Regions from separate parts of the Homo sapiens genome. Here region 1 is linked to region 2. The links come from fine-mapping of genetic effects on gene expression. A gene starts in region 2. The other region holds a variant in brackets. All regions are shown on one strand. Distances are from middle to middle.

Region 1 (8,250 bases), 35 kb after region 2:
TCCTTCCTCCACCTGCGCCCCTCTGCCTATCCCCCCTGCCTTCCTCCCCACCTGCCCCCCTCCACCTGCCCACCATCTGCCCCCCTTCTCCACCTGCCCCCTCTGCCACCTGCCCCCCTACTCCTCCTCCCCCCCTCTGCCTTACCCCCCCACCTGCCCGCCATCTGCCCCACTCCTCCACCTGCCCCCTCCTCCACCTGCCCCCTCTGCCTGTCCCCTACTCCTCCTGTCCTCCCTCTGTGTCCCCCCCACCTGGCCCCCCTCCTCCACCTGCCCCCTCTGCCTATCCCCCACCTGTCCCCCCCTCCACCTGTCCCCCTTTTCTGCCTGTCCCCCTCCTCCTGTCCCTCCTCTGCCTGTCCTCTCTCCTCCGTTCTGACCCCTCCACCTCATTCGGTTCCCCTCCGTCCCTTTGTACCTTTTGCCGGCCGTGTTTCTACTTGGGCCTCCACTGCCCGCCTCTTTCCTGGACCCCCGGCCACCCTGTCCTGTGGTTTTGTCTCCTTGGAGCCGCCTGCACTGCCAGGCCTGCTCACCACCCCACCCCCACATCTTGTCCCCTCTTGCTTGGTCCCAGCTCTATCACCTCAAATGCCACCCCAGGGTCTCCCCAGTGGGGCTCGTGGGTGAGGCACAGAACACCAGGCCAGCCCCTGGGGAGAGGCGGGACCTCTTCACACCATCCCCAGAAACGCGGAGGGGGTTGGAGGGCAGACGCTGATAGCAGCCTCCCCCGTCCTCCAGGGATCCTGTGGAACCTTTCATCCAGCGACCACCTGAAGGACCGCCTGGCCAGAGACACGCTGGAGCAGCTCACAGACCTGGTGTTGAGCCCCCTGTCGGGGGCTGGGGGTCCCCCCCTCATCCAGCAGAACGCCTCGGAGGCAGAGATCTTCTACAACGCCACCGGCTTCCTCAGGTGCGCCAGCCTCGGGCAGCGGGGTGGGGATTGCAGGCGCGGGTCACTGTGGGGACTCCGCCTGGCCTGGCGTTCGCAGCCCACACACCGCACGCCTCGCGCTGGGGATGGGCGTGCGAGGGCCCACGATGGGTTGGGGCAAGGCCCGGGATGCGGGGTCCCTGGGGGGCTCTGATCCACCTCGGTCCCCAGGAACCTCAGCTCAGCCTCTCAGGCCACTCGCCAGAAGATGCGGGAGTGCCACGGGCTGGTGGACGCCCTGGTCACCTCTATCAACCACGCCCTGGACGCGGGCAAATGCGAGGACAAGGTGAGGGGCGCGGTGTGGAGGAGGGGCCGTGCCCCCGGGCCGCCGCTCTGACCCGCGCCCCTGCCCCGCGCCCCCGCCCGCAGAGCGTGGAGAACGCGGTGTGCGTCCTGCGGAACCTGTCCTACCGCCTCTACGACGAGATGCCGCCGTCCGCGCTGCAGCGGCTGGAGGGTCGCGGCCGCAGGGACCTGGCGGGGGCGCCGCCGGGAGAGGTCGTGGGCTGCTTCACGCCGCAGAGCCGGCGGCTGCGCGAGGTGGGCACCAGCCTGAGCGGGGCGTGGGGTGGGTGCTGCGACCCCGGCCCCGCTGACCCCGGCCCCGCTCACCCCCGCCCCGCTCACCCCCGCCCCGCTCACCCCGCCCCGCTCACCCCGGACCCCGCTCACCCCCGCCCCGCTCACCCCCGACCCCGCTCACACCCGCCCCGCTCACCCCCGCCCCGCTCACCCCCGCCCCGCTCACCCCGGACCCCGCTCACCCCCGCCCCGCTCACCCCCGGCCCCGCTCACACCCGCCCCGCTCACCCCCGCCCCGCTCACCCCGGACCCCGCTCACCCCGGACCCCGCTCACACCCGCCCCGCTCACACCCGGCCCCGCTCACCCCCGCCCCGCTCACCCCCGGCCCGCTCACACCCGGCCCCGCTCACACCCGGCCCCGCTCACACCCGCCCCGCTCACCCCCGGCCCCGCTCACACCTGCCCCGCTCACACCCGGCCCCGCTCACACCCGGCCCCGCTCACACCCGGCCCGCTCACACCCGCCCCGCTCACCCCCGGCCCCGCTCACACCCGGCCCCGTTCACACCCGCCCCGCTCACACCCGCCCCGCTCACCCCCGGCCCGCTCACACCCGCCCCGCTCACCCCCGGCCCGCTCACACCCGGCCCCGCTCACACCCGGCCCCGCTCACACCCGCCCCGCTCACCCCCGGCCCCGCTCACACCCGCCCCGCTCACACCCGGCCCCGCTCACACCCGGCCCGCTCACACCCGCCCCGCTCACACCCGCCCCGCTCACACCCGCCCCGCTCACCCCCGGCCCCGCTCACCCCCGGCCCCGTTCACACCCGCCCCGCTCACACCCGCCCCGCTCACCCCCGGCCCGCTCACCCCCGGCCCCGCTCACACCCGGCCCCGCTCACACCCGCCCCGCTCACACCCGGCCCCGCTCACACCCGGCCCCGCTCACACCCGGCCCCGCTCACACCCGCCCCGCTCACCCCCGCCCCGCTCACCCCCGGCCCCGCTCACCCCCGGCCCCGCTCACCCCCGACCCCGCTCACCCCCGACCCCGCTCACCCCCGCCCCGCTCACCCCCGCCCCGCTCACCCCCGACCCCCGGCCCCGCTCACCCCCGACCCCCGGCCCCGCTCACCCCCGGCTCCACTGACCCCGGCCCCGCTCACCCCGGACCCCGCTCACCCCCGACCCCCGGCCCCGCTCACCCCCGGCTCCACTGACCCCGGCCCCGCTCACCCCGGACCCCGCTCACCCCCGACCCCCGGCCCCGCTCACCCCCGACCCCCGGCCCCGCTCACCCCCGGCTCCACTGACCCCGGCCCCGCTCACCCCGGACCCCGCTCACCCCCGACCCCCGGCCCCGCTCACCCCCGGCTCCACTGACCCCGGCCCCGCTCACCCCGGACCCCGCTCACCCCCGACCCCCGGCCCCGCTCACCCCCGGCTCCACTGACCCCGGCCCCGCTCACCCCGACCCCGCTCACCCCAGACCCCCGGCCCCGCTCACCCCCGGCTCCACTGACCCCGGCCCCGCTCACCCCGGACCCCGCTCACCCCCGACCCCCGGCCCCGCTCACCCCCGGCTCCACTGACCCCGGCCCCGCTCACCCCGGACCCCGCTCACCCCCGACCCCCGGCCCCGCTCACCCCCGACCCCCGGCCCCGCTCACCCCCGGCTCCACTGACCCCGGCCCCGCTCACCCCGGACCCCGCTCACCCCCGACCCCCGGCCCCGCTCACCCCCGGCTCCACTGACCCCGGCCCCGCTCACCCCGGACCCCGCTCACCCCCGACCCCCGGCCCCGCTCACCCCCGGCTCCACTGACCCCGGCCCCGCTCACCCCGACCCCGCTCACCCCCGACCCCCGGCCCCGCTCACCCCCGGCCCCGCTCACCCCGACCCCGCTCACCCCCGACCCCCGGCCCCGCTCACCCCCGACCCGCTCACCCCGACCCCGCTCACCCCCGACCCCCGGCCCCGCTCACCCCCGACCCGCTCACCCCGACCCCGCTCACCCCCGCCCCGCTCACCCCTGCCCCGCTCACCCCGGGCCCCGCTCACCCCCGGCCCCGCTCACCCCGACCCCGCTCACCCCCGACCCCCGGCCCCGCTCACCCCCGGCCCCGCTCACCCCCGCCCCGCTCACCCCCGCCCCGCTCACCCCGGGACCCGCTCACCCCGACCCCGCTCACCCCGGACCCCGCTCACCCCCGCCCCGCTCACCCCGGACCCCGCTCACCCCCGACCCCCGGCCCCGCTCACCCCCGCCCCGCTCACCCCGGACCCCGCTCACCCCCGCCCCACTCACACCCGACCCGCTCACCCCGACCCGCTCACCCCGACCCGCTCACCCCGACCCCGCCGACTCCTCCCCGCCCTGCGCAGCTGCCCCTCGCCGCCGATGCGCTCACCTTCGCGGAGGTGTCCAAGGACCCCAAGGGCCTCGAGTGGCTGTGGAGCCCCCAGATCGTGGGGCTGTACAACCGGCTGCTGCAGCGCTGCGAGCTCAACCGGCACACGACGGAGGCGGCCGCCGGGGCGCTGCAGAACATCACGGCAGGCGACCGCAGGGTGGGGCACCCAACCCAGACCCGAGGGGGTCCCAGGGGTTCATGCGGTTGAGGGGGGGACAGAGGAGGGAGAGGGAGGGGAGGAGGAAGGGGACGCCCAGGGTCCGCGGAGCCTCGGAGGTCAGCGTCCCGGTGGCGCAGGCCTTGGGCCTTGGGAGGATGGAAGTCCTGCCCTGGGTTTGAAGGGAGGCACCTGATCCGGGCTGCGGCTGATTCCCCCCGGCTGGGGGGCAAAGGCAGAAGCAGAGGCCCCCCTGAGGGTGGCGAGAGGATGCAGCGACC[C/T]CATTGTGGCAGGACCCCCTCAGGTGAGGGTCTGAGGCCTCCGGGTCACGGCTCACACCCTCCCTCCCCACAGTGGGCGGGGGTGCTGAGCCGCCTGGCCCTGGAGCAGGAGCGTATTCTGAACCCCCTGCTAGACCGTGTCAGGACCGCCGACCACCACCAGCTGCGCTCACTGACTGGCCTCATCCGAAACCTGTCTCGGAACGCTAGGAACAAGGACGAGATGTGTGAGTCGGGCAGCCCCTCGTCCCTGCCCTGCTGGACCCACATGTCAATTTTGTCTTTAAGTGTGGGCTTCAGACCACTGGGGCCAGTCCAGCTCCCTGGGGGAGGCAGGGGACCCCAGGTGCCCAGGTGGCCAGGAGTAGGGGTGCAGACTGACCCCCGGCCTCCCACAGCCACGAAGGTGGTGAGCCACCTGATCGAGAAGCTGCCGGGCAGCGTGGGTGAGAAGTCGCCCCCAGCCGAGGTGCTGGTCAACATCATAGCTGTGCTCAACAACCTGGTGGTGGCCAGCCCCATCGCTGCCCGAGACCTGCTGTATTTTGACGGACTCCGAAAGCTCATCTTCATCAAGAAGAAGCGGGACAGGTAGGGGCCGACCCAGCCGTGCAGCAGCCTGGTCAGGGGTCCTCCCAGTCCACCCTGCTTTCTGGCTGTGTGTCCCCTCCTGACTGCCCTCCACCCTCAGCCCCGACAGTGAGAAGTCCTCCCGGGCAGCATCCAGCCTCCTGGCCAACCTGTGGCAGTACAACAAGCTCCACCGTGACTTCCGGGCGGTACGTTTCCCGAGCCCAGGGCAAGCAGGGACCCGGGTGCAGGGCATGGGACGCCGGGGGAGGGTCAGTGAAGAGGCCCATGGGAGGATGGAGACCAGGGACCCAGAGAGGAAGGGTCCGGGCCACACCCAGCACACTGCAGGAGGGACAGCGGGCAGAGGGCCACATGGGCAGACATGCACCCTGACCTTGGGCCTCTCTCCACTGTAGAAGGGCTATCGGAAGGAGGACTTCCTGGGCCCATAGGTGAAGCCTTCTGGAGGAGAAGGTGACGTGGCCCAGCGTCCAAGGGACAGACTCAGCTCCAGGCTGCTTGGCAGCCCAGCCTGGAGGAGAAGGCTAATGACGGAGGGGCCCCTCGCTGGGGCCCCTGTGTGCATCTTTGAGGGTCCTGGGCCACCAGGAGGGGCAGGGTCTTATAGCTGGGGACTTGGCTTCCGCAGGGCAGGGGGTGGGGCAGGGCTCAAGGCTGCTCTGGTGTATGGGGTGGTGACCCAGTCACATTGGCAGAGGTGGGGGTTGGCTGTGGCCTGGCAGTATCTTGGGATAGCCAGCACTGGGAATAAAGATGGCCATGAACAGTCACTGCCCTGTGTCCTTCCATGGCTGGCCCGACCCTGTGGCTGGCAGCATGATCCTGGGACTCAAGGTGTCCCCAGGCACCCCCTGCCCCTGAGGACACCCACCCCCTGGGCTCACACACAAGCCTCCCAAGATCAGAGGACATAGGACATGGAGAGCCCAGCAGAGGGACAGCTGGCACCTCAGGGCCGAGAGGGGACAGGGTGGACAGCGGGTGCACCACAGGCACAGACGGAGCAGAGCTGGGGGCCTCGAGAGTAGAGGGGTGACTGGAGTAGGAACAGGGTGGCTGCCTCGTGGGCTACACTCATGCGGCAAATGAACCCAACTCCTCCGCCGCCCACCCTGGGCCTGGAGTTGCCTGGACCAGGGGCTCTCACACTGGCTGCCTGAGGTTTGGGGTCCAGTGGGCTCTCGGACACCCCCATCCATCTCACCCAGAGCCAGGCCATTTAGTTGTGAAGTTACTGTGGATATTCTTAAAACAGAAAGTTTCTGTGAAGCTCAGAACTTGAGGTCTCTAAGGAGCCTGCCCCCATCCAGGATCTGCCTGCATGGGAAGGGTCTAGGAAGAGTCACGTCCCCAACCAGGGACCAGGCAAGGAGGCCCAAGGAGGCTACTGTAAGCACGGGACACGCCTGAGCTGGCTTAGGAAGGGGGATGGAGAGAGGGCAGATTTGGTGATTTGGCGGGTGGGGATGAGAGAGGGAGGGGTGGGGATGAGAGAGGAGGGGTGGAAGGCTGAGAGAGCCGCAGAGGGAAGCCGAATCCGAAACCTTCCGCCGCAAGGGAGGAGACCGAGGCCCCAGCAGAATCCAAAAGGACTTTATTTTCTGGCACTGGGAGGCGCCCTGAGGCCACAGCCTTTTCCCAGGGCTGCTGGCAGGGTCCCAGGGCTGCTGGCAGGGGTTGTGGTCCTGTTGAGCAGAGGAGCGACGCCGCTGCCCTGGCCCCCGCTGTCCCTATGATCCTGCACTCTGGGGTGGGAGCTACATATCATCCTTGGACACCAGGCAGTAGAAGTCTGTGCGGGCACTGTAGTTTCGCGAGCCGAGATCCGAGACGTCCACTTCGCTGCTCCGGCTCTCTCCCAGCGAGACCCCACTGGTGTGCGGTGGAGCTGATGGCTCTCCAAAGACAGGCCCCCGGACACCTGGGGTGGGGAGACCGAGACGCCTGAGGTGGCCACCCACAGCCTTGGCCCAGACCCACTGCCAGGGGCTGCCCCTGCTCACCCCCTGCTGTGATGGCCTGTGAGGCCCAGGAAGTTCCCAGGCAGACCGAGGGCCGAGCACCTCCAGGGCAGAGGCCGTGCAGGGGCTCCCGGTGCCGGGAAGAGTCCTCAACACCTGGAGCCCCTCCAGGCCCTGTGCCCTGTGCCTGCCCCCACTCCGCCCTGTGCTGAGCTTCTCCAGTTGGGGAGTGGGGCTGGGCGGGCATACCCAGGTCGCCCTCAGGGTCCGGGTCCACCTCTGAGTCCAGGGCCCGGCCCTCAGGGACTCGGCCTCGAAGAATCAGCATGGGGTCCTTGTCGTCCTGCAGCTGCGTCTGGGGGTCTCCTTCCACAGGCCTGTACTGCACCTTCCGCGGCAGCGCCAGCTGCACTTCTTTCCAAAAATCGGAGGAAGGAGTCTGGGGGCCAGGTCGGGGCGGTTTGCAGGTGTGAACACCTCGGAAGCCCCTGGCGTCCTGGCCCCCAAGAGCACACCTGCGGCTGCCCACGGGTTCCACGCCCTGCGACAGCTATTCCGTGGCTCCGGGGGCCTCAAGGGCGGCTCCCCGCATCGGGGCCCCAGGCAGCGGAACCTCCCCCCAGGGCCCATTCACAAAGCGTGGTGCCGCAGAGCTCCCCACGGAGGGGTCCCAGCCTGGAGCCCGGGCACCGCCCATCTCTAACCCGCCGCTAGCCCCGGACCCTCCCGCGCCTGCTCCGCACCACGGAGCCGGGCCTCCAGAGCAGCAAGGTCACCAGGTGGCGGTGCTGGCGCAGCAGGCGGAGCGCCGGGTGCGCGGGGTCGCGCCTCTGGCCCTCGAAGGTGATGAAGATGGGTCTGCGGGTGAGCTCCAGCAGCCGGCACAGGCCCTCCCTGCGGGGCGGGACCGTCAGGGGGGTGGGTGCTACGCTGGGGCCCACCCAACCCCGCGCGGGACCCACCGGAAGCTGTGGCTGCACCAGGCCCGGCTCAGGAAGGCGTCCGAAAGCACCACGATGAGGCGTCGGCAGCGGCTCAGGTTCACCAAGAGGTCGGCGGAGGGCTCTGCGGGAGGGCGGGCGTCGGCGGCGCAGGGGCGGGGGCGGGGGAGGGCGGGGCCGGAGGCTCAGGGGCGGTGCCGGACGCAGAGCTCTAAGGGAGGGGCGGGGCCTGCGGGGTGGGCGGGTTTTTGAGGCGGGGCCTCGGGTGGGCGGGGATGGGGGCGGAGCTCGATGGTGGGGGTGGGGCCCCGGGTGGGACGGAGCATGGGGCGGGGCGGGGCGGGCCCTCCGGGTGGGCGGGGCACGGGGTGGGGCCCGGGATACCAGCGCGCGGCAGGAGGTCGCGGTCGTCCAGGAAGAGCTTGTAGCCCC
Region 2 (8,307 bases):
AGGCACATTCTAACGCCTGGGCTGCCATCGTGCACTGGGTGTGGTCGGACCCACCAGCCTCAGGGCTGGGTGTGCACAGCAGATGCCACCGACGGAAGTGGTCTACACGTGGTCAGCTCAAACAGGTCCTGGGGGCCCTGGGAAGCCAGTGGAGGAGGTGGGTCCTGAACAGGCATGAACAGGCAGCTCCCCTCACTCTGCCTCATCTCTCTGAAATACACCACTGGGTCGTGAGGCGTTCCCTCGGACCAGATGACTCAGAAAGCACAATGCAGCCCTGGTCACAGATGGCTCTGCCTAATAAGCTGGCACCACCCCGAAGTGGGCGCCCCAGCACGGCAGCGCCACCTGGGTGTGGGAGGCCAGGCCTGCACGACAGGTGCAAAGGCAGGTCCTCACCTGGGTGTGGGAGGCCAGGCCTGCACGACAGGTGCAAAGGCAGGTCCTCGCAGGGCCGAGCAGCAAGCAGGATGGAGGAGGAGGCAGAGTTCCGTGGACGCCCCGGCCACGGCCGACCGTCTAGCTGATGGCCAGGCACTTGGAGGGGCACGATTACAAAGTTAGAGATGAAACGGTCGGGGTGAAGGTATGTAGACAGACCTCTTGGGGTGGGCAGAGCATAAAGAATTTGTGTGCAAAGACCTGTCTCAGCAGAGGAGGGACCCTAATAGTCAGACGGACAAAATGACCCATTTGTGCGCATCAGGCAGCCTCTTTCCCCAGCTCCCCTTGTCCTGAGTCGGGCCAAGTGGCTGTAGCAGTGGGAAGCGGATTACCCTGGGCACCGCGCAGCCAACAGCGGAGACCAACACTGGCCCCTTCCTCCACCATGGAGGATGCTTGTCCCAGCAGGATGGGCTCCCACCCCAGCTGTGGATGGTCAGTGCCCTCAATGCCTCTGCCCAAACCACCACCCCACACATTCAGAGCTCCTCGTCCACCCACGGGGTGCTCCTCATGGCGGCATCGCCATTGTCCTGGGGACAGCAACCGGCCGGTGCTCCTGGAACCCACAGATCTCGCCGTGTTCCTGATGGAATGGCCTTTGGGAGGCTCAGTTTTGGCACCAGCTGAGTGACAATGCTGTGGATCTGGGGTCCTCTGGATGCAGCGGATCCACTGAATCAGCACTTAATCTCTGGCTTTTCCCAAAGCCGGGGCTCACTGGTCCAGGCGTGGAGGAGTGGAAACCCCAACTTCTTCCCATTGTCGTTAATCCCCAGTGAGCCACAAGTGAAAGTTTTGCCCCCTGCAGTGTTGCACGCTGTTGGTCTAGAGGCCTCAGATTCCCAGGGACCAACTCATCCCAGTTTGCTTAAGACTTTGCCGGTCTTATTTTCATTTTTTTATTTTTTATTTTTTTGAGGCTCAGTTTTGCTCTTGTTGCCCAGGCTGGAGTGCAATGGCACGATCTCGGCTCACCACAACCTCCGCCTCCTGGGTTCAAGCAATTCTCCTGCCTCAGCCTTCCTAGTAGCTGGGATTGCAGGCATGCACCACCATGCCCAGCTAATTTTTTATTTTTAGTAGAGACGGGGTTTCTCCATGTTGGTTAGGCTGGTCTCGAACTTCCAACCTCAGGTAATCCACCTGCCTCAGCGTCCCAAAGTGCTGAGATTACAGGCGTGAGCCACCGCGCCCAGCCGACTTTCCCAGGTTTAAAACGGAAAGTTCCATGTCCTAGGAATCCCCTCGGTCCTGGGAAAGCCCTGGAGTGTTTCCACCAGGGGACACGTTACGCAGGAAGCTGAGACTGCCCACCTGGACGCCGGTTCCTCACACCAGGGGGTCGACAAAGAAGAGGGTCCCTGTGCTGGTCCGGCTGACTGAGCCCAACAAGGGGAACTTGGAACCTGATCACAGAATGGGGCTAAGGGGGAGAAATTTGGGAGGCAGGAGATCGTCTGTAATATCACGTAGCTCCTCTAAGCCTTGCAGAAAACACCACTGGAAAACCAGAACCACCCCATAAGGCAAAACTGCTAACAGCATAGGCCTTTTGGGAAGGAACGTTTGGGTCACCCCACCAGACAGTGAACCACGACCAGCAGAGGTGCTTGCAGAGGGCAAAGGGACCACGCAGGAGTGACGGAAGAGCGTGGCCATAAAGACTGTACCAGCCACGACCTGGTGACCGTAGAAGTGAGTACTTCTTATCCTCACACAAGTCACACTTGTACTGACATTATCCGTTCTTCCTGCTTTTTTCCTCTTCCATTGCCCTCCTAGCTGCATAAAATGCGTTAACAACAGTTAACTTTACATTTCATCTCAGTATTTGTGTCATCCAACCCCCAACATGCACTTTGCAGTGTCAAGTGTTAAACGCTCTTAGAGAAACTAGAAGAACGAGGATCGTCTTCTCAAATGTGGATAACATGACACGAACCTTTTGTTCAGTCCCTTCTGGTTGGAATATTTGCATCATGTTACGTAGAAGCATGACTTTGTTTTTTGCTTTATTTGGAAGTTAAATGTGTTTTTTAAAAGAAGTGTGCGTCTGTGCTGAGTTGTCAAGAGGAGGAACCTGCCAGGTTGTTCTCTCTTTTTTTTTTTTGAGACCGAGTCTCGCTCTGTCACCCAGGCTGGAGTGCAGTGGCGCGATCTCGGCTCACTGCAAGCTCCGCCTCCCGGGTTCACGCCATTCTCCTGCCTCAGCCTCCGAGTAGCTGGGACTACAGGCGCCCGCCGCCACGCCCGGCTAATTTTTTGTATTTTCAGTACAGACAGGGTTTCACCGTGTTAGCCAGGATGGTCTCGATCTCCTGACCTCGTGATCCGCCCGCCTCGGCCTCCCAAAGTGCTGGGATTACAGGCGTGAGCCACCGCGCCCGGCCAGGTTGTTCTCTTATTCTAAGCTGGAGACCCATTTCCCAGAACCTTCTCCTCTGTGGCTGGGTCACACCGAAGTGAGGCGGTGGCCGTTCTTCTCCAGAAGGGGCCGAGACGGATGTGGTAGCATATGGAGCATCTGCGTCCGGCAGATCCCAGCTCGCCCCTCAATTGTACCTACTATGCTTTGGATCCACAGGGGACACCCTCTGACTGTGGACCCATGAAGTGTCCCAAACACGTCTCTCCCGACATTGCCAACACTTGCCTTCTAAGAACCTGTTTACGGGTCAGGCCAGCCGTTGCCTCCCCAGAGAGCGACCCTGGAGCGGGAGCCGGCCTCCCTCCATCACCCAGCTCATCTCCTTCACGTCACTCACCACCAGCAAAGCGACTATGCGTTCACTGGTCTGTCCCTGCCTAGTAACATGTAAACTCCATGAAAGGAGGGCCCTTTTCTGTCTTGCTCACTGCTGTGTCCCCTAAGTCCCTGGCTCGTCAGGACACTAGAATACTAGGTAGCGTCCACTGGCTGGATGAATGTGCCTAGGATGGGGTGCCATGCAGTGGAAAGAGGGAAAGCATTAGACGCACAGCCAGACAGATGCACATAGAAAATATGGGACTTGGAGAAACAGAATGAGACACATAAAAGAGCACCACTGGCCGGGCACAGTGGCTCACGCCTGGAATCCCAGCACTTTGGGAGGCCAAGGCGGGAGGATCACTTGAGCCCAGGAGTTCAACGCCAGCCCGGGACACATGGTGAGACCCTGAATCTGTTAAAAAAAAAAATACAAAAAATTAGTCCGGCATGGTGATGCATGCCTGTAGTCCCAGCTCCTCAAGAACCTGAAGTGGGAGGATCGCTTGAGCCCAGGAGGTCAAGGCTGCTGTGAGCTGAGATTGCACCACTGCACTCTAGCCTCAGAGACACAGTGAGACCCTGTCTCAAAAAGGGGTGGGGCACTATATTTTAATGAATATGCAGATAACAGAAATATGAAAAGTGGACTGCAGGAGGCAGGAGATGAGGAGCTGATGGGGTGGGGGAAGGTTTGAGAGACCGGGTGTTGTTTAAGGGCCGGTATGAACAGCAGGATGTAACCAGCTTGCTTCTGTGCTCAGAAGTTAGGGGAGGAGGATGGAGGGGAAGGAGGGAAGGAGTTGAGGTCTTAAGAAGGCAACTTCTGGGCAATCTTCCATTGTGAGGTGGGGTCCACGTCCCCACAACCCACGAACTTGGGTGGCCGTGCGGCATGTGGCAAACCTGAGGGGTGACTCCAAGATGCTTCACTCTGTGTGCTGGACCGGGAGGCTGCCCCTGGCAGCTGAGCCTGCAGGCGCTCTGGCCAACCACCCGGGGTGAGCCCAGCCATTCCTGCCGAGGGTGCACTGGCTTGGGGCAGAAGTCTCTGGATGGCTCCAGCCTGTCCCGCGGAGCCGGCCCCACCACTCACGTCTTCCCACCGGAGGCCAGCACCTCGAGGAGCAGAGAGGAGCTGTCCCCGAGTGCCCTGAGTTCCTGACCCACAGGACACAGGAACACAGGAACGCTGCTGTTGGACAGCACTGAAGCTGGGCGGTTTGCTACACACCCAGAGACAGCTGAGCAGACAGAGGGAGAAGAGTAGGGTCACGCTGGCAGCTGGACAAGGGAAGTACTGGGGGGACAGAGGGACTGGCAGGGGTTGGTGCAGACCAGGTGAGAAAGGGCACGAAGTGGGACAAGGTCCCGGTGAGAGGCACGACACTGTCACCTGCCTCAGGCCGCGCTCGGTGGGGCGGGGGCCACCAGCTGAGGCCCCTCCTGCCGCCCAGACAGCTCGGCCCCCTGCGGCCCCAGCCCTGCAGGCTGAGATCCCGCAACGACTCCCACCCCTGGGCTGAAGCCGGTGCTTGGGCCCCCCCGCCCCCCGGCCTCTCTCGCCCGCCCCCATTCCCCGCCCCCCAGGACCCCGGGTCCCTCCCCTCCCTCCTCCGTGTTGTCCGCCTGCAGTCCTTCGGGTCACTGTTCTCGGGAGGCCGCCCCGCCCCACAGTCAGGCTGTGCCCATCCCCCGCCGCCCCCCACGGTCCCCGAGCCCCAGCGCTTCCCAGCCCCGCGTCTGTGTGCCGCGCCCCCGCGCTCCGTGGCCCAGGTGGACGCGCGCCCCGCGCCCCGCATCCCTGTCCGTCCCGCACCCCTCACCCCCCGCCCCGCACCCTCCGCACCCCCCGCCCCGCCCCGCCTCCCCTCGCCCCGCCTCCTCCGCCCCGCACCCCGCGCCCCGCCCCGCCTTCCCGCGCCCCGCACCCCTCCCCGCGCGCCGCCATTGGCTCCCCGCGGCCTGGCTCGGTCCGATTGGTTCCGCGCGCGCGGCCGGGGCCCGATCCGCGGTGGCAGCCGTGGATGCTGTTCGGTCCCGCCGCCGCCCCAGGAGCGCGGAGCCGGGAGCGGCCGGGCGGGGGGCACCGCGAGGAGCCGCCCCCGCCGCCCACCCCGGGCCCGCGGCCGAGGGCGGCCTGGGGGGGTCGCGGCCGCACCCGGTGGCCGCGCACGGCGGACAAAGGACCATGCGGGGCCGCGGGCGCTGAGCGCGGCGGGGCGGGCCGGGGATGCGGCGCGGGGCGGGCGGGGGCCGGGGGCTGCAGCGGCGCCGCTGAGCGCGGCCTGGGGCGGGCGCGGCGGCCGCGATGCCGCGGCTCCCGGTGAAGAAGATCCGTAAGCAGATGAAGCTGCTGCTGCTGCTGCTGCTGCTGAGCTGCGCCGCGTGGCTCACCTACGTGCACCTGGGCCTGGTGCGCCAGGGACGCGCGCTGCGCCAGCGCCTGGGCTACGGGCGAGGTACGGCGCGGGGGGCGCGGGGGGCGCGGGGGGCGGGGGCGGCGCGGGGGGCGCGGGGGGCGCGGGCGGCGCGGGGGGCGCGGGCGGCGCGGGCGGCGGGGGCCCCGGGGCGCGGGCCGGGCCTCCCACCGCACAGAGGTCTCGGCTGGGCCCGACCCTCCCGGAGACCCCGCCCGCTGTTCTCCGCTCTGCGATTTGGGGGGAGGGGGCGCGGTTCGGCTCGGCCCGGACGCTCGATGACGTCGGCAGTGACGCGCGCGACCCTCCCAGAGAGGGTCCCTGACTCTGGGATCTGGCTTGGATCCGGTAGTGAGGGGCTGACGGTGGGCTCCTGGGGAAGTCTCTGCCCCTAGACCCTGCTGAGGCTTCCAAGAGGCCTTCTCAGGCCTCGCCTCCACCCCCTGCCCGCTTAGCAGGGCCTCAGTTTCCCTGTGTGCTGGGGACCCGGGCCGGGGCTTGCTGAAGTGGCCGGTGCAGCTGGGACGCTTCCCGGCGGGGGCGCCTTCGGTGAACTGTGCCAGTGTTGTGGGGGTCCATGCGTAGGGATGGGGCCCAGCTTGGGGAGCCTGGCGTAAACTCTCCCAACCCCAACCCACAAACAAAGCAGATGGGGTCACGGTGAGCCAGCCGGGGTAGGGCCTCCTGGAGATGGTGATCTTTGACATACACCTTTGGGGGAAAGAGCATTCCAGACAGGAAGGCGCAGATGAAAGCCTGGCGGTGGGGTTGGGGGAGAAGGTGGGGCAGAATGCCCCCTCTGGAGGAGGGAGGTTAGTGCCATGCCCAGACCAGGAGAGACCCCAGCTGGCTGCCTCTGAGCCTTTTCCAGGGAGCCAGGTGTCCTGAGGGGGCAGAACAATGATACTGGCTGGGGACTCCTGGGCCACTCCACCTGCCAAAGCCCCTGTGTTCTCTTCCTGTACCGGGACGCCTGGACCCACACAGGCCAAGGGTCTGGGGCTTGTCCCAACCCACATACCTCACAGCTTCCACACCCTCAAGAGACCCCCGATACTGCTGAATCCCTAAAAAGCCCCACCCCAGCTATCAGCAGACAGGGCAGGATCCACAGCTGGCCCAGTGACACAGAACAAAACCAGCCCCCTCTGCAGGCTCCTCTGTGGTTTTCTGAGCAGCGCAGGGGTCTAAGCCCAACCAGGAGGGGGCGGAGGCATAGGGACCCCTCTTCCAAGGACCCCTTGAGGCTAAGCCAGCTCCGCCCCAGGGCACCTGTACACTTGCTACCTCTGAGGCTAGGGCCAGGACCAGAGGAGCCCAACAGCTGCCCAGGGAGAGGGCGAGTGAGCAGACTGTTCTGTCGGGGGACCTGGGGCCCAAGTCAGGGGAGCCCTGGGGGACCCTTCCCAGATCTGCCTGTGGACATCTCTACTGCCTCCCCACAAGCCTGGGCAGGCCAGCTCTGCACCCCAGCCCTCTCCACTTCCTGGACCTCCCTAAGCTGAGGACCTAGACATCCCCACTGCAGCCCCAGGGGGTTCCACGCCCTGGGATCTGAGCATCTGTAGGGATGCTTCTCTTCACCCCAATTCTGCCCCTCCTGGTCCTCCTACCCAAGGACACTCAATCCAGGGCCACCCTCTGCTCCAGGGCCATGCCTGGGCGTCAGCATCCATGCCTGTTCCTCAGTCCAGACTTTGAGAGCTCAAATCCTTCAGGAGAGACTACAGTCCCTGGCACTAACCCTGAGTTCTCAGTTCTGGTAAGGGAGGCAGACGTGGAACACTCCAGCACACAGAGAAAGTGCTGAGGGCACAGGGCAGTCCTGGGGTCTTCCTGGAGGCAGAGCCACTCAACAAGAATGGCCAGATGGAGGTGCATGTGGGTGCCTACACACGCCAGCTGGCCCACCCGGCTTTCCTCCCTCACACCTGCTGGAGGTTGGGAAGAGCCTGCTGGAAGGCTCAGCCTGGGCTGCCCCACCAGAGGTGGGGTGTAGAAGAAGTTGCCTTGCTGGGGGGAGGGGCATCTGGTGGCAGAGGAAGCAGATGAGAAGGAGAGGCTTTAGTGAGAGACACCACAGCCTGCCTGCCCTGCTCTGGCCATGTGGGTCCCTGGCCCAGCTGAACCCAGCAGCAGGCAGAATGGCCTTGGAGAGAGCCTGGGCCCGAGACAGGCCTCATGTGCCACCTGCAGATGGTGAGAAGCTGACCAGTGAGACCGACGGCCGGGGGGTCCACGCTGCGCCATCCACACAGAGGGCTGAGGACTCCAGTGAGAGCCGTGAAGAGGAGCAAGCGGTGAGCAGAGCCCTGGGGAGAACACGTGTGCACGGAGACGAGACCCCGAAGCCACTTGTGTGTTGGTGTCTTGAGAACCTGTCCATTCTGGAGGACGCAGCAGGGGGCATGAGACACAGGACATGTGGGGCACGGCACAGCTTGTCTGTGTGAGCTCCAGCACCAGCCATCCTGTCTGGAGCTCTGTGTCTGGGGGCTGCAGCAGGTGCATGAATGTGCCGGCCGGTCAGTGTGTGGGGTGGCCAAGCATCTGCTTGGGCTAGAGTGACCAGGGTGTCTGAGTGTATGTGCCAGGTGCCACAGGTCAGGGTTTGCATGGCTGGGGCTCACGGGCATTTAGGGCTGTGTGGATACATGTTGGAAGGGGTCTTTGTGAAGGTTTGTCTTGGTG

The links. PIP is the estimated chance that this variant, and not a neighbour inherited with it, causes the effect.
Region 1: its variant is fine-mapped to the expression of B4GALNT4 in whole blood (INTERVAL, PIP 0.97).

The regions. Positions count from the first base shown.
Region 1 is chr11:399,223-407,472 of GRCh38, forward strand. It overlaps PKP3 (plakophilin 3), which reads left to right. Exons shown (of 13, transcript NM_007183.4): 6 at 745-919; 7 at 1,112-1,229; 8 at 1,313-1,483; 9 at 3,856-4,041; 10 at 4,396-4,549; 11 at 4,721-4,913; 12 at 5,014-5,101; 13 at 5,312-5,686. The coding sequence ends at 5,347. SIGIRR (single Ig and TIR domain containing) reads right to left here. Exons shown (of 10, transcript NM_001135054.2): 6 at 8,203-8,250; 7 at 7,840-7,942; 8 at 7,621-7,771; 9 at 7,127-7,316; 10 at 6,494-6,837. The coding sequence ends at 6,674. Among named protein-coding and RNA genes, the nearest start is that of PKP3, 9.1 kb to the left of the region's middle. RefSeq lists an enhancer at 6,300-6,993 and silencers at 7,570-7,619, 7,630-7,889, 7,960-8,019. The variant C/T (reference allele first, on the strand shown) is at 4,323.
Region 2 is chr11:364,297-372,603 of GRCh38, forward strand. B4GALNT4 (beta-1,4-N-acetyl-galactosaminyltransferase 4) reads left to right here and starts at 5,203. Exons shown (of 20, transcript NM_178537.5): 1 at 5,203-5,658; 2 at 7,813-7,916. The coding sequence starts at 5,508. RefSeq lists an enhancer at 3,736-4,274.